2 separate regions of the Homo sapiens genome follow, and region 1 is linked to region 2. The links come from fine-mapping of genetic effects on gene expression. A gene starts in region 2. The other region holds a variant in brackets. All regions are shown on one strand. Distances are between the middles of the regions.

Evidence for each region.
Region 1: its variant is fine-mapped to the expression of EPX in tibial nerve (GTEx, PIP 0.93).

The regions. Positions count from the first base shown.
Region 1 is chr17:58,273,816-58,282,120 of GRCh38, forward strand. MPO (myeloperoxidase) reads right to left here and starts at 7,120. Exons shown (of 12, transcript NM_000250.2): 1 at 6,790-7,120; 2 at 6,551-6,644; 3 at 6,024-6,199; 4 at 5,708-5,831; 5 at 5,482-5,611; 6 at 5,193-5,399; 7 at 4,012-4,330; 8 at 1,727-1,887. The coding sequence starts at 6,943. RefSeq lists enhancers at 1-429, 1-245, 431-2,697, 2,692-3,647, 2,692-2,811 and 3 more and promoters at 7,110-7,704, 7,110-7,250, 7,643-8,044, 7,929-8,154, 8,200-8,305. The variant A/T (reference allele first, on the strand shown) is at 3,647.
Region 2 is chr17:58,189,156-58,197,443 of GRCh38, forward strand. It overlaps EPX (eosinophil peroxidase), which reads left to right and starts at 3,571. Exons shown (of 13, transcript NM_000502.6): 1 at 3,571-3,767; 2 at 3,883-3,976; 3 at 4,216-4,391; 4 at 4,559-4,676; 5 at 4,808-4,937; 6 at 5,809-6,015; 7 at 7,784-8,102. The coding sequence starts at 3,692.

The DNA of each region.
Region 1 (8,305 bases), 85 kb after region 2:
ATACCGGACCTGGGCCTAACAGAGTGGCACTGAGAGGCATAAATAGAGTTCTACTGCTTGCTGGCTGGGTGACCTTGGACCAATTATTAACCTCTCTGAGCCTGAGTTCCTCAAATGTACATTAAGGATAATTATATTGCCCTCTGCCTTAGAGGACTAAATAGCAAATCACTTTTTTAGTCATTGTGATAACTTCCTTGTCCTCAAGTTATTAATGTCTCATTTCTGCAACTATCTTATAAAGTCCTTGAGAGCAAGGGAAATTGAAGTTGTTGAAATTCTTCACAGTGCCCACCAAGTGCCTGCCCACAGTAAGGCTCAGTTTAGGTTTGTGGAAAGCAGGGAGGCAGGAAGGAACGAAGGGCCATTCTGGCATGATTTTCCCTGTGAAAAGTGAAGACATGGAATAGTCTCACTCTACATTCTAGAGTCTAGAAGTTATTTTGGAGTGTAAATGAATTTCACTTGAGTTCTTAGTGCAAATCAAAAACTCACCCTTAGCACCGAAAACTCTCTCCTCCAGAATCTAGGAGTGTGTGTGTGTGTGTGTGTGTGTGTGTGTGTGTGTGAGTGTGTGTATGTCTGCCTCTGCCTCTGAGGGAGAGGGTGGGGGCAATGAAGCACCAGATGTTGAGAGACAGAACCAGGAACATTGCCCCAGGGGTAAATGAGGCTAAGGACATTGGGTGGATTATGACAGAGCCAAAAAGAAGAGGTGAGTGGGCTGAACACAGTGACTCGTGCCTGTAATCCCAGGGATTTGGGAGGTCGAGGAGGGCGGATTACTTGAGCCCAGGAGTTTGAGACCACACTGGGTAACGTGGCGAAACCCCGTCTCTACAAAAAATACAAAAATTAGCCGGGCGTGGTGGCCCGTGCTTGAAATCCCAGCTACTCAGAAGGCTGAGATGGGAGAATGGCTTGAGCCTGAAAGGTGGAGGTTGCAGTGAGCCAAGATCGCACCACTGCACTCCAGCCTGGGCAACAGGGTAAGACCCTGTATCAAAAAATAAAAATAAAATAATAATAATAATTTTTAAATTTTATTTTATTTATTTATTTATTTTGAGATGGAGTCTCGCTCTGTCACCCAGGCTGGAGTGCAGCAGCGCCATCTCAGCTCACTGCAAGCTCTGCCTCCCAGGTTCACGCCATTCTCCTGCCTCAGCCTCCCAAGTAGCTGGGACTACAGGTGCCCGCCACCACGCCCGGCTAATTTTTGTATTTTTAGTAGAGATGGGGTTTCACCGTGTTAGCCAGCATGGTCTTGATCTCCTGACCTCGTGATCCACCCGCCTCCGCCTCCCAAAGTGCTGGGATTACAGGCATGAGCCACCGCGCCCAGCCCTATAATTTTTTTAATTTTAAAAAGAAGAGGTGAGTGGGTAAAGGAGCTAAGAGTGACAGTGAGATGGAGGGAAGAAGAATTTACTGAACAGCTACTTGGGCGCTAAACCAAACATTCAACCCTCCCAACACCAATAACAGACCCACAGGAAAGAAGACTGCAGGGAGCAAACCTGCGAAGAAGGAGAGGGAAGGGAAGGAGGCTTTGTCAAGCACTTACTATCTGAAAGGTGTTTTCATATATGTATTATAATCCTTACAGCCTCATGGATGAAGAAGGCAAGGCTCAGGAGCGTTAGGAACTTGCCCAAGGTCACACAGCTAGGATGTTGCAGGGACACATCTGGATCCCGTGTGCCCGGTGTTCAAGACGGCCTACCTGGACCATGGCCCCCACGATCTTCCGGGCTTCCTGGTAGAGCCTCTCCCCATCCCACCTAGGGTTCAGGCTCTTGAGCTCTGTGGCCAGCCGGTTGTGCTCCCGAAGTAAGAGGGTGTGCATGGAGGTGAGCTCGGGCATCTCACTGGAACGGGTGTCCCCTTGGGGAGGCAAAAGCCACTGTCATTCTTAAGGCCTCCATCCCAGAAAAGATTTGCTCCACTGAAACCCCCTCCCCAGCCAAGGCCTGAAATGCCTCCTACTCACCCCTCCTCCCCATCCATCTTTTCAAACTATCCCCAATTTACACTCCTCTAGGAGGCCTTCCCTGATGCCCCAGTCCACAATGATAGCTTCTGCCTCAGCTCAGGGCCGCTGCTGGTTGGGGATGCTCATTCAATAGGTATCACTTCCAACACATGACATGCCACTTTCCTGTACCTGAAACTGGGAGCTCCTTGAGCACAGGACCAAGGCTTGTGCCTTTTTATATTTTACCCTCCCTCCTAGCACACATATGGATACATGGGGCTTAACAGAGTGCCTGGTACAAAGTATGAGACTTATGAACACTGCTTGGTTCATTGATTCTCTTGATTCCAAGGAGTGTCTGGGAAGAAGCATGCGTGTTGGCACAGCCTACATCCATGCCCATGTCTGATGCAGCTAACGATCACAGCACTCTTTCCTGCTAAAATTGGATGCAACCTCAGAATCCTTCTCAACACAGGACTCCAGAAAGCCACTACCATTTGAACAGAGTTGTCAGCCCTGCCCTTTACTACATGCCAATGGTGCAGCCTGCCCCAGGGGAGAGGGCTAGGACATGAGATATGTGGAGTCCACACCTGAGACTGTTCAAGAAAACTAAGCAGATCCCCCCTGGTTCCCCTAGTCCTCCCAGAACCCTTCTCTGCAGGGGCCAGAGGGCTAGGGTCAGGACACTAGGGTCAGTCCTTGCCAGCTCTAGAAGCTGGTGGAAAGGAAATTCTCTGAGAGCAGCATCTCCATCCATGAACAGCTAGAGGTCATAATGACCCAGGCTTGGGACATGGGGCTCATCAAAGCCAGGCTGTGGGCAGCTGAGTCTGGCTAAGGAGGGCTGCCCTTGCCTAACTAGCCCAGAAGAGGTCGGGCATCTCTTGCAGAAAGTCCGACCTGGATCCTCCTCCCAGGGTCCCAGCCAGGGAGAGACCAGCAGGAACCATCAGGAGGAGGCAGAGGGAGGCCAGAGGAAAGGGCCTGAGGTCCACTATTGGGTTTACATTTAAAAACACTGGAAAATGGCTGCGTGCGGTGGCTCACACCTGTAATCCCAGCACTTTGGGAGGTTAAGGTGGGCAGATCATGAGGTCAGGAGTTTGAGACCAGCCTGGCCAACATGGTAAAACACCATCTCTACTAAAAATACAAAAAATTAGCCAAGTGTGGTGGCAGGCGCCTGTAGTCCCAGCTACTCAGGAGGCTGAGGCAGAAGAATCACTTAAACCCAGTTGGCAGAGGTTGCAGTGAGCCGAGACTGTGCCACTGTACTCAAGCCTGGGTGACAGAGTGAGATTCCGTCTTAGAAAAAAAAAAAACACTGGAAAATGTCTGGTCATGGCTGCCATCACTGCCCCAATTGTGTCTCCAAAACTGCCAATTGTTTACATTTAAAATCCCATCATCTCTTATTATGGGTAATTAAGATGCGCAGGAGGGGATATTTTGGAGCAGTGTGGTCCAACTCAACCTTCCGAGATGATGAAAATATTTTACATCTGTGCCACCCAATAGGGGGAGCCACTAGACTGTAAGGCAATTGAGCATTTGAAATGTGGTTAGCACCGCTGAGAAACTGGGTTTATTTAATTTAAAATAACTAAAATTAAAATAGCCACATGCAGCTAGTGGCTACCACATTGGATAGTGTCGCTCTAG[A/T]GGGTGAGGGCACCACAGCGTTCTCTGTCCTTTAGTTCCCTGCCCCTGAGGGATTTGACTCTCTTGTCTTCCAGAGTCCAGAAGGGAAAAAAGGGACAGAGAAAGCAATGGACTGATGGACAGAGGCTCCTCAGCCATGCCTGGGTCTCCATCTTAGGGTTGGAGAGGTTGTTTGCTTTTCTGCTTTTCTGGCTCCATCTGACTTGTTACCAAGGCAACTGGATTAATATCATGAAGTTGATAGTAATGGCTGGTGAGGACAGTCTCTCTAAGTACAAACCCACAAGCTGCTCACAAACAGACTCACTGTGGCTCCAACAGGGAACATCTCCTATGCCACCTCTGGTCCCCACCCCAAAGCTGACCTGCCAGGAAGCAGGGGATGCGCGCTGAGCGGTTGGTGAGGAGACAGGGGTCATCGTGCAGGTTGTCAAAGGGCAGCAGGGCCCGGCCGTTGTCTTGGAAGCGCTGGTTGACGGCCAGCAGCCCCAGCTGGTTGGACATGTTGCGCAGGTTCCTGGCCAGGGGCTCCTCGCTGCCGTACACCATGCTGGCGTCCACGAAGGAAGTGAGCGCGTTGATCTGGTTGCGGATGGTGATGTTGCTCCCGGGGCAAGCCGGGCAGGAGCGGAAGAACGGGATGCAGTCGGCTTGGTTCTTGATGCGGGGGTCATTGGGCGGGATCTGAGGCACAGAGAGAGGCTAGACTGGCTCACCGAGGGCAAGGAAGGTGCCCAGGCAGAACTGGATCTCCCCCTGCCCTCAGGACCTCTGGTACCCTCAACCTGCAGAGAGGCCTCCGGAGGCCCGAAAGGGATCGCTGCCTAGGGCGCCATCAGCAACAGCCTCTGAGGTGCAGGGTTAATGAGCAGAACACTGAACTGGGAACCTGGGCAACCCCTGGGTCTGGGCACCGCCAGGCCTCGGATCCCTCCTCACTAAAGCGTCGCCCGTCTCTCTCCCCTTCTCTCTGCTGTGCCTGCTCTCCCTCTGGCCCTGACATTCTCCTGTCTGTCTCTCCCTCTCTCAGGCGCTCTCTCCTTTCTCTCCTCCTCCTTCCCTACTCAGCAGTGCCTCGACCACCCTGCCCACTCCCAGCCCTGTCCCACGGCACCCACCAGACCCCCAGGCTCTCTCTTTCTGTGTGATGGGGGTTGGGGCTGCCCTCTCAGTGGGGCGGAAACAGGACTGAGCATGGAGGCTTGGGGGGCACTGAGAAGGTCTCCTCCCAGAACCCTCTCCCAACCTAACAAAGAGCCAGTGATTCCACCAACAGGACTCCTGTCAGCCAAGGAGGAACAACCCTCTCTCCCTTGGCCTGCCAGAGGCAGTGAGCAAATGGACGGCCCTGGCTGCCAGCTGGCTGAGCCCAGGCGCAGGAAGGAGACAGGTCATAGCTGAGCAGCCAGTGCTGTGGACACAAGGGAGGCAGGGCCAGCCTTCCTCAGCGTCTGGGAAAGGAAACCTGGGCACAGAAGGGAGATGGCCCCTTCCAGAAACAATCTCCCCTCTCCCAACCCAGGCAGTGGGCGGGAAGCAGGGCCACCTTGAGCGGGAAGCAGGGCGGCTGCTGAACGCAGCTGGTCTCGCAGTTGACGCCAGTGACGAAGGAGGCCCGGGCGGCCGGCTCAGGGGTGAAGTCGAGGTCGTGGTCCAACAGCTGGCCCCATTGCATGAACATGAGTGAGCGCTCCTGGTCCGGAGTCAGCTGATCAGTGGGGAAGCGCACGATCTCGTTGGAGACCGCGCGAGCCTGCGGGACACGGAGATCAGCTGGCGCCTGGGTCCGCGCACCGCGTGGCCGGGCCTCGCCCCCTCTGCCCGCCGGCGCTCACCAGAGCCACCGGGAAGCCGTTGCGCTTGACCCCGGGCGTCCAGCCGTAGGGAAGAGAGAAGCCGTCCTCATACTCCGCCGGCAGCCAGCGCACAAAGGCACGGTTGGAGGCCCCCAGCGTGGGGCTGCGTCTGCAGGGGAGGACAGGGCGCTGACACCGGGAGGCTTGTGGCGTCCGGGACGCCTCTCTGAGCCCGGTTCCTGCAGCCACCCCCAGCCAGCCGCACCTGTTGTTGCACATCCCGGTGATGGTGCGGTATTTGTCCTGCTCCGGGCAAGTCACCCCCACGTCCTGGTAGGCGCAGCCGCTTGACTTGGACAACACATTCAGCTGGGCGGGCGTCAGCACATCTGCCGGGGGAAAGAACAATGGGGGAGCTGAGCCGCCTCACTTCCTATCCCAGGCAACCTGAGGCTGAGGAGCCCTGGAGACTCCTGAGACTCCCTGGAGGAAGAAGTTGAGGGGATCACTGAGAGACGGCTGGGGTCCCTAGGAGGAGTCACTAGTGGAGCAGGGACCTGGGGTGTGATGGGCAACAGTACCAGTGACATTGAATGGCCTTCGCCACAGGGACCGCAGCTTCCTCTCCAGCAGGTCTAGAGCCACGTGCAGGTAGTCAGCGGCCCTCACCGCCGTCCTGGTGGCTGCCACCGGCTGCTTGAAGTAGGATAGGAGTTCCATGGGGCTGGCTGAGCCGCTGCGAAGCCGCTGCTTGATGCTGCTTGGAGAAAGGAGGAGTGAGGGCCAGAGAAGGGATACAGACCCACCCAGCAGAGCCCCAGCCCAGGGGCAGACATGCAGGACCATGCAGGCAGGCCCACGGGTGGGAGGAAGGCTTCCTTTTATAAAAAGGATATGGACCTGGGTGTCCAGACAGAGGCAAGGCTTTGGGAAGGATGGCTTTTAAGCTGTTCTCCCATCCAGAAACACAGGGACAGACAGACAGAAAGGGAGTCCACATGGGTCCCCATAGTCCCCCTCTCCCACCTTCAAGCTCCCTGCTGCCTGCTGCTTCTCTGAAAGGCCTGGGACATCCTTGCCCAGAGCTGGGCAGTGCCTCGTGCCCCACCTTTCCCGCCGCTCCTTGTAGGCCTTGTCCACCAGCTGCTTGGCCTCCTCCATGGAGCTCAGCACCAACGAGGTGTCCACCTCCCCCAGGACAGCTGCCCAGAGCAGGGATCACAAAGTCAGGAATGGGCCCCAACCCCCTATCAGGCCCCAGAGCTAGGAAGGCCTGCTCTGAGAAAAGGGGTCTCTGGAACACAACCACCCCAACACACCATCTTCTCCCACCTTGGGAACTGTTACCTGGAGCAGCACCTTCAGAGGGCTGGGGCGTGGCCAGAATGGCCAGGAGCCCTGCTAGGGCCAGAAGCAGCTTCATCTCTGCAGTGAGACCCCCAGCCCAGCAAGGTCCTAAGTCCACCATGCATCTGAGAGAAGAGAAGAAGGGAACCCCCATCTCTCTTCTCCTGGGCTGCTCAATCCCCCTTTGTACCTCAGCCCCACCTCAGAGGGCCCTGTCTATGGATAAAGCCAGACCTCCTTGAGGGAGGGGCTCACTGCTCTCTTATCCCCTTGCCAGCTGCTGTCATCCAGCTTCCAAGGACCCCACCTCCACAGCTCACCTGATATTGTCAGCTCCTCTTAGCTCAATCTGCGCTTTTATGTCCTCTAAGCTGGGGGTGGGGTGAGGTAGAGGAAGGTCTGATCCTGGAGACTGAACTCTTTCTCCTCCCCCACTGGGGTTGGAAGGTACACACAGAGGGGCCCCTGAAATGGGGGGAAGGGGCAGGAAAGGAGGGGCCAGCATTGTCCCCAGCCTTTTTTTTTTTTTTTTTTGAGACGTTATCTTGCTCTGTTGCCCAGGCTGATGTGCAATGGTTCAAGCGATTCTTCTGCCTCAGCCTCCCGAGTAGCTGGGATTACAGGTGCCCGCCACCACGCCCTAGCCTCTAGCCACATCATCAATTATTTCCTTAGGCAAGAAGTAATTTTTGTATTTTTCCTTAGGCAAGAAGCTAATTTTTGTATTTTTAGTAGATACAGGGTTTCACCATGTTGGCCAGGCTGGTCTTGAACTCCTGACCTCAAGTGATCCACCCGCCTCAGCCTCCCAAAGTGCTGGGATTACAGGCATGAGCCACTGGCCCCAGCCTGTCCCCAGCCTTTGAATTTAGCACTACCAGCCCAAGATTTCTCAGCTCACCATTGTGTGCCTATACCAGTGCTTGTCCCCAGGGGATACACACAACTAACCCCTCTGAAATTCTGGTTACACTGGTTATCCAGGGTTCCTTTGAAAGGAACAAAAGTCAGGAACTGGTAGCCCAAGGAATTGCAGGGAATAGAGTGCCCCCAGGGAAGACAGGAGGATGAAAGGGAGACCTGGAGTAAAGATGACCCAATTGGCCTCAGGTGGCCATCCCCCACTCCAACAGTAACCTGCATCCAACAGCCACCCAATGGGCAGCCTCTGGTTCTTGGTGGGGCTAAGGGGACAGGAAATCTGGCTGGAGACCGTTGGGCTTCACAGGAAGGAGGACCCTGGGGACTGTGGGCGCAGGACCAAGATAACTTCCTCTATCCCTCCTCACTCCCCTTTCTTCTTGGCTTCTGGTAGAGGGCTGTCTCCAAACTCCTCCTCCCCACCACCATCTGCTCCTGGATTTCAGGAACCAGGAGAGAGCAGAACTGGTTGTGGTTAGTGATCAGTTAGGTGATGCAGCCCAGGGCCTCTCTGGGACAGGATCAGTGCAGTTGGGAGGACTTGGGTTAATGATTCAGAATAATTCTGAAACAGAAGAGGATATTTCTTGCTTGA
Region 2 (8,288 bases):
TGTGTGTGTACGTGTGTGTGTGTGTGTGTGTGTGTGTGTGTGTATATTTCCAGTGTCAGATACTCCAGGTTGCTACTGCACAACACTTAATGCTAAGGAAAATCTTGCCAATGAAATCCCAGTGGGCACGATGAAAAGCCCACGAGGGGGACACAGAGGGCAGGGGGCCCTTGCCTACACTCCTCTTCTTGTCCCTGCATGTGGTTGGCCCTGACCAGAGGGAGGAAAAAGCAGATGTCGACGTGGACCACTGTGAGACATGGCGAGCACCCTGCATGTCACCTGCCCCATAGTGGGGGCCAGAGCTGGAGAGGGTGGGTGGGGTCCAGGCTGGAAAGCCCCTGGAGAGGGGCTAGAGAGGTCTCTGTCACTTCATCACGTTCACTCCGTCTCCAGTGGCCCCGTATCTGGCACGCCCACTCTGACATGAGGAGGAGTGCTTGGAGAGCCTCGGTCTGAACAGCCCTAAACTTGGAGGCCTCCCTTCCAGGCGCCCAGCCCTGAAGGGTCTGCAAATCCCTTGCACTCACTGCCTCCACCCTTCAGGCCAATGGCAATTGCTGCCTTTGACAGACAGCCTCAAGGGACCTCAATAAAGGAAGCAACAATAGGGCAGAAAAACAAGGTATGTTCAACAACACTGTTGAGCGCCTGCTATGTGTCAGGAATGATGTCTGCGAGGTAGACTAGGAATGACCTCCATCTGACAGTGAGGAGGTGGGCTCAGAGGTTGAGGAGCCTGCCCAAGTGGATGACGGTGCTAGAATGGGGACCAAGTTCAGCTTGTAGCCACCTCCCTGTACTGCTCTCAAGGAGCTCCCGCCTGCTAAGTGCTGTGGCTATGGCACCAAGCCCAGCTTGTGGGGTGACTCAGAAATGGCTTCCCAGAGGGACCTGCTAGGAAGAGGAAGCTTCCGGCAGAATTAGGAGCTGCTTGGAAGGAGAGAAAAGGTGGGGGTTATATGTGGAAGGTTAGGATGATTGGAGCCTAGGGGCAGGGTCCTGTGGGGGAAACGTGGCAGAAAGTAGGCTAAGGAGACATCCAGAGCCAGAGTCCAGGAGAGCCAGGCAGCAGGCTCTCATCACCACCCCGAGCAACCAATAGGTCCAAATCCCCAAGAGATCAGCCACCATGGCAGGGCTGGGCTTAGAGCCTAGGTTTCTGTCTCAGGCTTGTCCCAATAACCCACGGCAGCCCATGGCTGTGGAGAAACCCTTGCACTGCTCACTATTGTTGAAGAACTAGAGTACCCTCTGCAGGGAGAGCAGAGCTCACTCTGAGTGCTGGGGACCCTGGAAGTACAGCAATCCAGGATACATGCACCCCATCCTGGCTCCAACCTGGGTTACATACACCCCACCCCAACTCCAACCTGGAGTATATGCATCCCATCCCAGCTCCAACCTGCGGTACATACATCCCACTCCAATTCTATCCTGGGTTACATACACCATACCCCAGCTCCAACCTGGAGTACATACATCCCACCCCAACTCCAACCAGGGGTACATACGCCCCACCCCGACTCCTACCTGGGGTATATACACCCCACTCCAACTCCAACCTGGGGTACATACATCCCACCCCAATTCTATCCTGGGTTACATACACCCCACCCCAACTCCAACCTGGGGTACATGCACCCCACCCTGCCTCCAACCTAGGGTACATACAGCCCACCCCAACTCCAACCTGGGTTACATACACCCTACTCTGGCTCCAAGCTATGGTACATACACCCCACCCTGGCTCCAACCTAGGGTACATACACCCTACTCCAACTCCAACCTGGGTTATATACACCCCACCCTGGCTCCAAGCTGTGGTACATACACCCCATCCAGCTCCAACCTGGGGTACATGCATTCCACCTGGCTCCACCCGGGGAGCACCTGGCTCCCTGAGGGCCGGGAGGTGACACACAGCTGAGGAGTGCTGTGTGATTTATATAATCTCTCTCCTCCATGAGGCTCCCTGTCCCCATCTCACAGGTTTGGAAACAGGTCCATGGAGGGGTGTGATTTACCCAGTCACTCAGTGGGTCAGCATCAAGGAACCCAGTGTGCTTTCAGCTCCTACACAGTGACTTCTACCCAGGCCCCCCGTCACAGGAGAGGGGCCTCCGCTAAAGATAAGGAGATAAGATTAGGAGGGCTCAGGCCATCAACTGGAGCTTGTGAAAGGGGTTGCCGAAGAGAGGTGGTTGTTTCAAGAGCAACGGTTGGGCTGGTAACATTGCTGTGGGAGGAGGAGGCTGTGGAAGGCACCGGGCAGGGTTTCGGTAGGGTGTGGGGGTGGGGGAGGAGAAAGGACACTTGGAACAGCCTCCCTGGGAGTCTGGAGCAGGCACGGGGTCCACACTGAAGAAGGAATGGACGTGTCCTCCTGAAGAAGGGGCGAGGACACGCAGGCTGCTGGCCACAGTGGTGGTGACTCTGGAACTGTCTCAGGGATGAGCATGTGCTCTCCAGGCAGCCGGGATGAGGTCAGAGGCAAAGGATGAACCTGGCTCATCCAGGGCAGGGAACTACAGGAGGAAGGCTTAGGTGCAGAGAGGGTGGGCCCTGGCAGAAGGCCGACTGGGATGCACTCTGCACTTAAGGTGGAAATGGAGGCGCACTTAAGGTGGAAATGGAGGCTCACCCAAGGTCACGAAGCTAGTGACAGGGCTGGATTCAATCCAGGCCAATCAGACCCTGGTGCAGCACACTGCCTCTAAAGAAGCTACTTCTCACCAAGCCCAATAGGAACTCATAATTGAAATCTACTTCTCAGAGTAAACCTACTACTGATTGGCACCTAAGAAACTCCAAGAGAATAAAGCCCATGGCGGGCGCTTACTTTTAGGCTCTGCAGCAGCTCACTGGGCTGGGTGTTTTACCTGTGACATCTCGCCATGTCCCCAAAATGGCCCCATGAGGGATTTCACTGCCAGGCCCTGCCTCAGTCACAGCCTCACACTCTCCCTGGCACCTTGGAGGGAGTGAGTAGGGCTAGGGGATAAGGAGAGGGGCCAAATCATTCATCACAGATCATTCATTCACTCAACAAACACCTGCTAAGCACATACTAAATGCTGGGCTTTGAGCTGGGTATGGGGGGTGTGTATAACAGTAAGGCAGATTCAGTTTCTGCCCTGTTGCAGGAGGAGAGGCACCCTTCCAATCATCTGGCCCAACTCTCATTCTAGGGATGTGAAAACTGAGGCCTGGAGAGGGAAAGTGGCTTGCCCAAGGCCATGCAGCCAGGCGGTGGCGACTGAGGTGCACCGCTCCTGTCAGCCAACAAATATCCATTGAGCGACACCTGTGTCCCAGGTGCTGCTCTGGGCCCTGGGAGAAGTGCATCAGTGGGCTTGGTAGTAGAGGGTAGGGATGGAGTGAAGGGTAGGCAGGAAGAATGTCCCCAGGCTGGTAGGAGGTGGGGTGGGGGGTTTCAGTCTCAAAACTCCCATGAAAACCAGAGAGAAGTTTCAGAACTCCACCCAAGAGGCTGGGTTTCTAGGGCCCAGAGCTGCCCTCCCCCACCCTAGAATGGGCTATAAAAGTCCCTTCCCAGCTACGTCCAGAGAAGAGCTGGAGGAAGTGAGAGGTCGGCTGGGGGTCCTCAAAGTGAGAGGGGAGCAGAGGATCCTCCCGTGCAGGCTGTGGATGTCACTCACTTCCCAGCTGGTGAAGCCTCGCTGCAGAGATGCATCTGCTCCCAGCCCTGGCAGGGGTCCTGGCCACACTCGTCCTCGCCCAGCCCTGTGAGGGCACTGACCCAGGTAATAGTCCCCTAGACAGGCAAGGAGGAGGGAGGGGAAATGGAAGGGGAAGCACTTGGGTCTTGGAGGGGGTCTTGTGGCTTGCTGAACCCTGAGTCCCCATCTCTTTGAACAGCCTCCCCTGGGGCAGTGGAGACCTCGGTCCTGCGAGACTGCATAGCAGAGGCCAAGTTGCTGGTGGATGCTGCCTACAATTGGACCCAGAAGAGGTGGACTTGGGTCTGGGGGCTGCATGGGCCTGGGAGGATCAGTGAGGGGCATGGGCCCCAGCCAAGTTCATCTCACTCATCAGCCACCTCTGGACCCCATGAACATTTCCTGTTGGTAGAGCCTCCCTTCCATCCATCCTTCTGTCCGCTTGCCCTGTCCTGACTGTGCCCCAGGACTGGGTCTCTGCTGGGTGGGTCTGCACCCTCTCTCCAGCCCTCACTCCTCCTCTCCTGGGCAGCATCAAGCAGCGGCTTCGCAGCGGTTCAGCCAGCCCCATGGACCTCCTGTCCTACTTCAAACAACCGGTAGCAGCCACCAGGACAGTTGTTCGGGCCGCAGATTATATGCATGTGGCTTTGGGGCTGCTTGAAGAGAAGTTACAACCCCAGCGGTCCGGACCCTTCAATGTCACTGGTACTCTGATCCCCACTGAGCCCGCTGGGCCTACCCTGGCCTGGAGTAGAAGGAATCCAGGAGAGGGAGGCAGGGTGCACAGGTTTGGGGTGCTGGGAGGAGAGAGGGTAAAGGGATGGGAGGTACAGAGCAGGCCAGCTCAGGTCTGCCCATTTGCCTTCCCACAGATGTGCTAACAGAACCACAGCTGCGGCTGCTGTCCCAGGCCAGTGGCTGTGCTCTCCGGGACCAGGCCGAGCGCTGCAGCGACAAGTACCGCACCATCACTGGACGGTGCAACAACAAGTGCGTGCGGGGCGGCAGGAGGGGCTGCCCCTGCCTGGGGGACCTCTCCCTTCCTGCACCCACCCTCTCCCTCCATGCTGAGCCATCTCCAGGCCCTGCCCCCTGCTAACCTATCCCACCCATGGCTGCAGGAGGAGACCCTTGCTAGGGGCCTCCAACCAGGCTCTGGCTCGCTGGCTGCCCGCCGAGTATGAGGATGGGCTGTCGCTCCCCTTCGGCTGGACCCCCAGCAGGAGGCGCAATGGCTTCCTTCTCCCTCTTGTGAGTTGGGGCTGAGGGTTTGGGAGGTTGCTTGATCTCTTAAATGCGGGGAGTAAAACACAGCCCAGAGTCACGCAGGCAGGGCTTGAACCCAGGCCCTTCCACTGACCAGTGCAGTGACTTGAGGCAAATAACACAGCTTTCTGAGGCTTAGTTTCCTCATCTGTAAAATGGCCCTAAAACCTACCTCGTAGAGCCTGTGTGGATATTGAAGTCCTTGGTATAAATAGCTATAGAGGACATGATCTATTCATGCTAACCATTACGGTGTTGTACGGTTTTTTCTGAGAAAATTAGTGTCAAAGTCTTGCTAAATATAAACAGCTCTATACCTTAATCTGGCTTTATCTATTGATCTATTTCACATTTATCAACTCATCAGTTTTCTATTGATATATCGATAGAGCAGTCTATCATCTACCCATCTATCAACATCTATTAATTAATTTTCTTCTATCCACCCTTCCATCTGCTGACCCCGTACTCCCTACGTGTATTATCCATCACCTGGCAACCAGCCCATGCACCTGTGAATCCGTGCTATCATCTGGTTAGCTATCAGTGTACAAATTGATCTATCTATTTGATCTCCCTTCCCCTCTGGGAGAGCTGGTGAGGTCTGAGCCAGTCAACCTAGCCCCTCTCCTTCTCTTTACCACCGGAATCCTCAGGAGCCCAGCCAGAAACCATCCTTCTAGGAATGAGAGCAGGAGGTGGCTACGCCTCCAGGGACAAAAGGGGCATGGAGGGCAGAAGAGGAGAGGCTGTCAATTCCAGCAGGGGAGCTGCTGCTCCCTGAGTCCTGGGTTGGCTCTAATACCTTGTGGGGTCAGGGAGCCCATGTCCCGTGCTGATGTTATTTCCCCACCAGGTCCGGGCTGTCTCCAACCAGATTGTGCGCTTCCCCAATGAGAGACTGACCTCCGACCGTGGCCGAGCCCTCATGTTCATGCAGTGGGGCCAGTTCATTGACCATGACCTGGACTTCTCCCCGGAGTCCCCGGCCAGAGTGGCCTTCACTGCAGGCGTTGACTGTGAGAGGACCTGCGCCCAGCTGCCCCCCTGCTTTCCCATCAAGGTACCTACCCTCAGCCAATCTCCCATGCCCTTGTGTGGCCTCCCCCAAAGGCAAGGTGCTGGGGGTGGGGATCTGGAAGACTGGAGCACCATCCTTAAGGAGCTGCCTGTGGAGCTAGGGTATGAGACAGAGACACAAGAAACACAGCTGAGCAGAGACCCCGCGCCGTGTGTGTTTGAGAGGTGGGGGTAGGGCAATCTGCCAGGAGGCTCAGGTCAGGCTTCATGGAGTGGGAAGCCCTTGACACATGCCTTGACCCATGGGTCTGAATCCAACAGGGGAAGCCTCTGGGCCCCTGCTTTTGGCAACCTAAGGGCCTCTTAGCTCTTGCCCTTCTCTCCTTCCCAGAGTAGTCCAAGGGTCCTGCGGCTCTTGCCAGCTTCTTGGGCTTGGGCTGTAAGTAGGGTCCTAACCTTCAGGCTAGAAGCCAAGGACAGTGTGGGGCACTAGGGGAGGAAAGATAGAATCCAGGGAGCAGAGTCTCTGCTAGGAACATAGGGTTGACACACGTGCACACACACACTCTCTCACACACACACACGTGCACACACACGCTCCCTCTCACACACACATGTACACACACAGTCACCCTTAATAGGTGGGGCCACATTCATGAGGGATGACATGTGAGGGCCTCTGGATGGCCTCTCCCTGTTGCAACCTTATCTATTCCTCAATCCCTGGCTTAGGGGCACCTCCTCTGGGGAGCCTTCTCAGATCTTCCTATTACACTTTTAACATATGTCCTCCCCTCCCCTCTCCTCTCTCTCCTTCCTTCCTTCTTCCTTCCTCTTTCTTTCTTTCTTCTTTCTTTCCTTTCCTTCCTTCCTTCCCTTCCTTCCTTCATTTCCTTCCTTCCTTTCTTTCTTTCTTTTTCTTTCTTTTTCTTTCTTCCGTCCTTTCTTTCTTTATCTTTCCTTCTTTCTTTCTTCTTTATTATTATTATTATTGTTTTGAGACAGAATCTCACTCTGTTGTCCAGACTGGAGTACAGAGGGGCAATCTCAGCTCACTGCAACCTCTGCCTCCTGGGTTCAAGCAGTTCTCATGCCTCAGCCTCCCGAGTAGCTGGGATTACAGGCATGTGCCAACAAGCCTGGCTAATTTTTGTATTTTTAGTAGAGATTGGGTTTCACCATGTTGACAAGGCTGATCTCAAACTTCTGGCCTCATGTAATCCACCTGCCTCGGCCTCCCAAAGTGCTAGGATTATAGGCGTGAGCCACCACACCTGGCCCACATATGGCTTTTCTATCAAGCACAGCAGATGCCACTTCAACTTAGTTTCTTAACTCTATGTGTGTGTGTCTTTTTCCACTGAACTGCCAGCTTCCTGCAACCTTTCCTGTGTTTTTTTAACCTTCATAATCTCCAAAGCAGCAAGCAAGAAAGGGGCTTAGAAAAGGTCTGTCGAATTGAACAGAATTAAAGAAGCTCAGGCCTAAGAGTCAAGAGAACTAAGTTCTAATCCCACCTTTCCTGCTAACTGGTTGTCACTTCCCCTCTCTGAGGCTGTTTTCCTTGCTGTAAAATGAGGATCGAGATTGTTTCAAAAGCCTCATTCATTCCTAACCTTTTGAGACTCTATGAAACAAAATGTTAAGGACACTCAGACTGACGGGGTGAGCAGCATGAGCCTGGGTGAGTCAAGGAGGGCTTCCTGGAGGAAGGGAGTTTTAAGCAAGGTTTTGAGGAGGTGGAAGATGACGGAGAGGAGTGAGTCTGCTATTGAGGGGGCCCCATGTCACTGTCTCCTCTTCCATCTCAGATCCCACCCAATGACCCCCGCATCAAGAACCAGCGTGACTGCATCCCTTTCTTCCGCTCGGCACCCTCATGCCCCCAAAACAAGAACAGAGTCCGCAACCAGATCAACGCGCTCACCTCCTTTGTGGACGCCAGCATGGTGTATGGCAGTGAGGTCTCCCTCTCGCTGCGGCTCCGCAACCGGACCAACTACCTGGGGCTGCTGGCCATCAACCAGCGCTTTCAAGACAACGGCCGGGCCCTGCTGCCCTTCGACAACCTGCACGATGACCCCTGTCTCCTCACCAACCGCTCGGCGCGCATCCCCTGCTTCCTGGCAGGTCAGACAGGGAGGAAGGTGGTGTCTTCCCAGGAAACAGCCATCCCTGGGGTCCCAACTGGGAAGCAATGGTGGGATGTGGTGAAGGTACATGGTTTGGGACCTCAGTATTAGGCACACCATAAGCATGGATCTGTGCACAGCCATCATAGAATCAGAACGTTGAGTCCCTTTGCAAGCTCCCTGT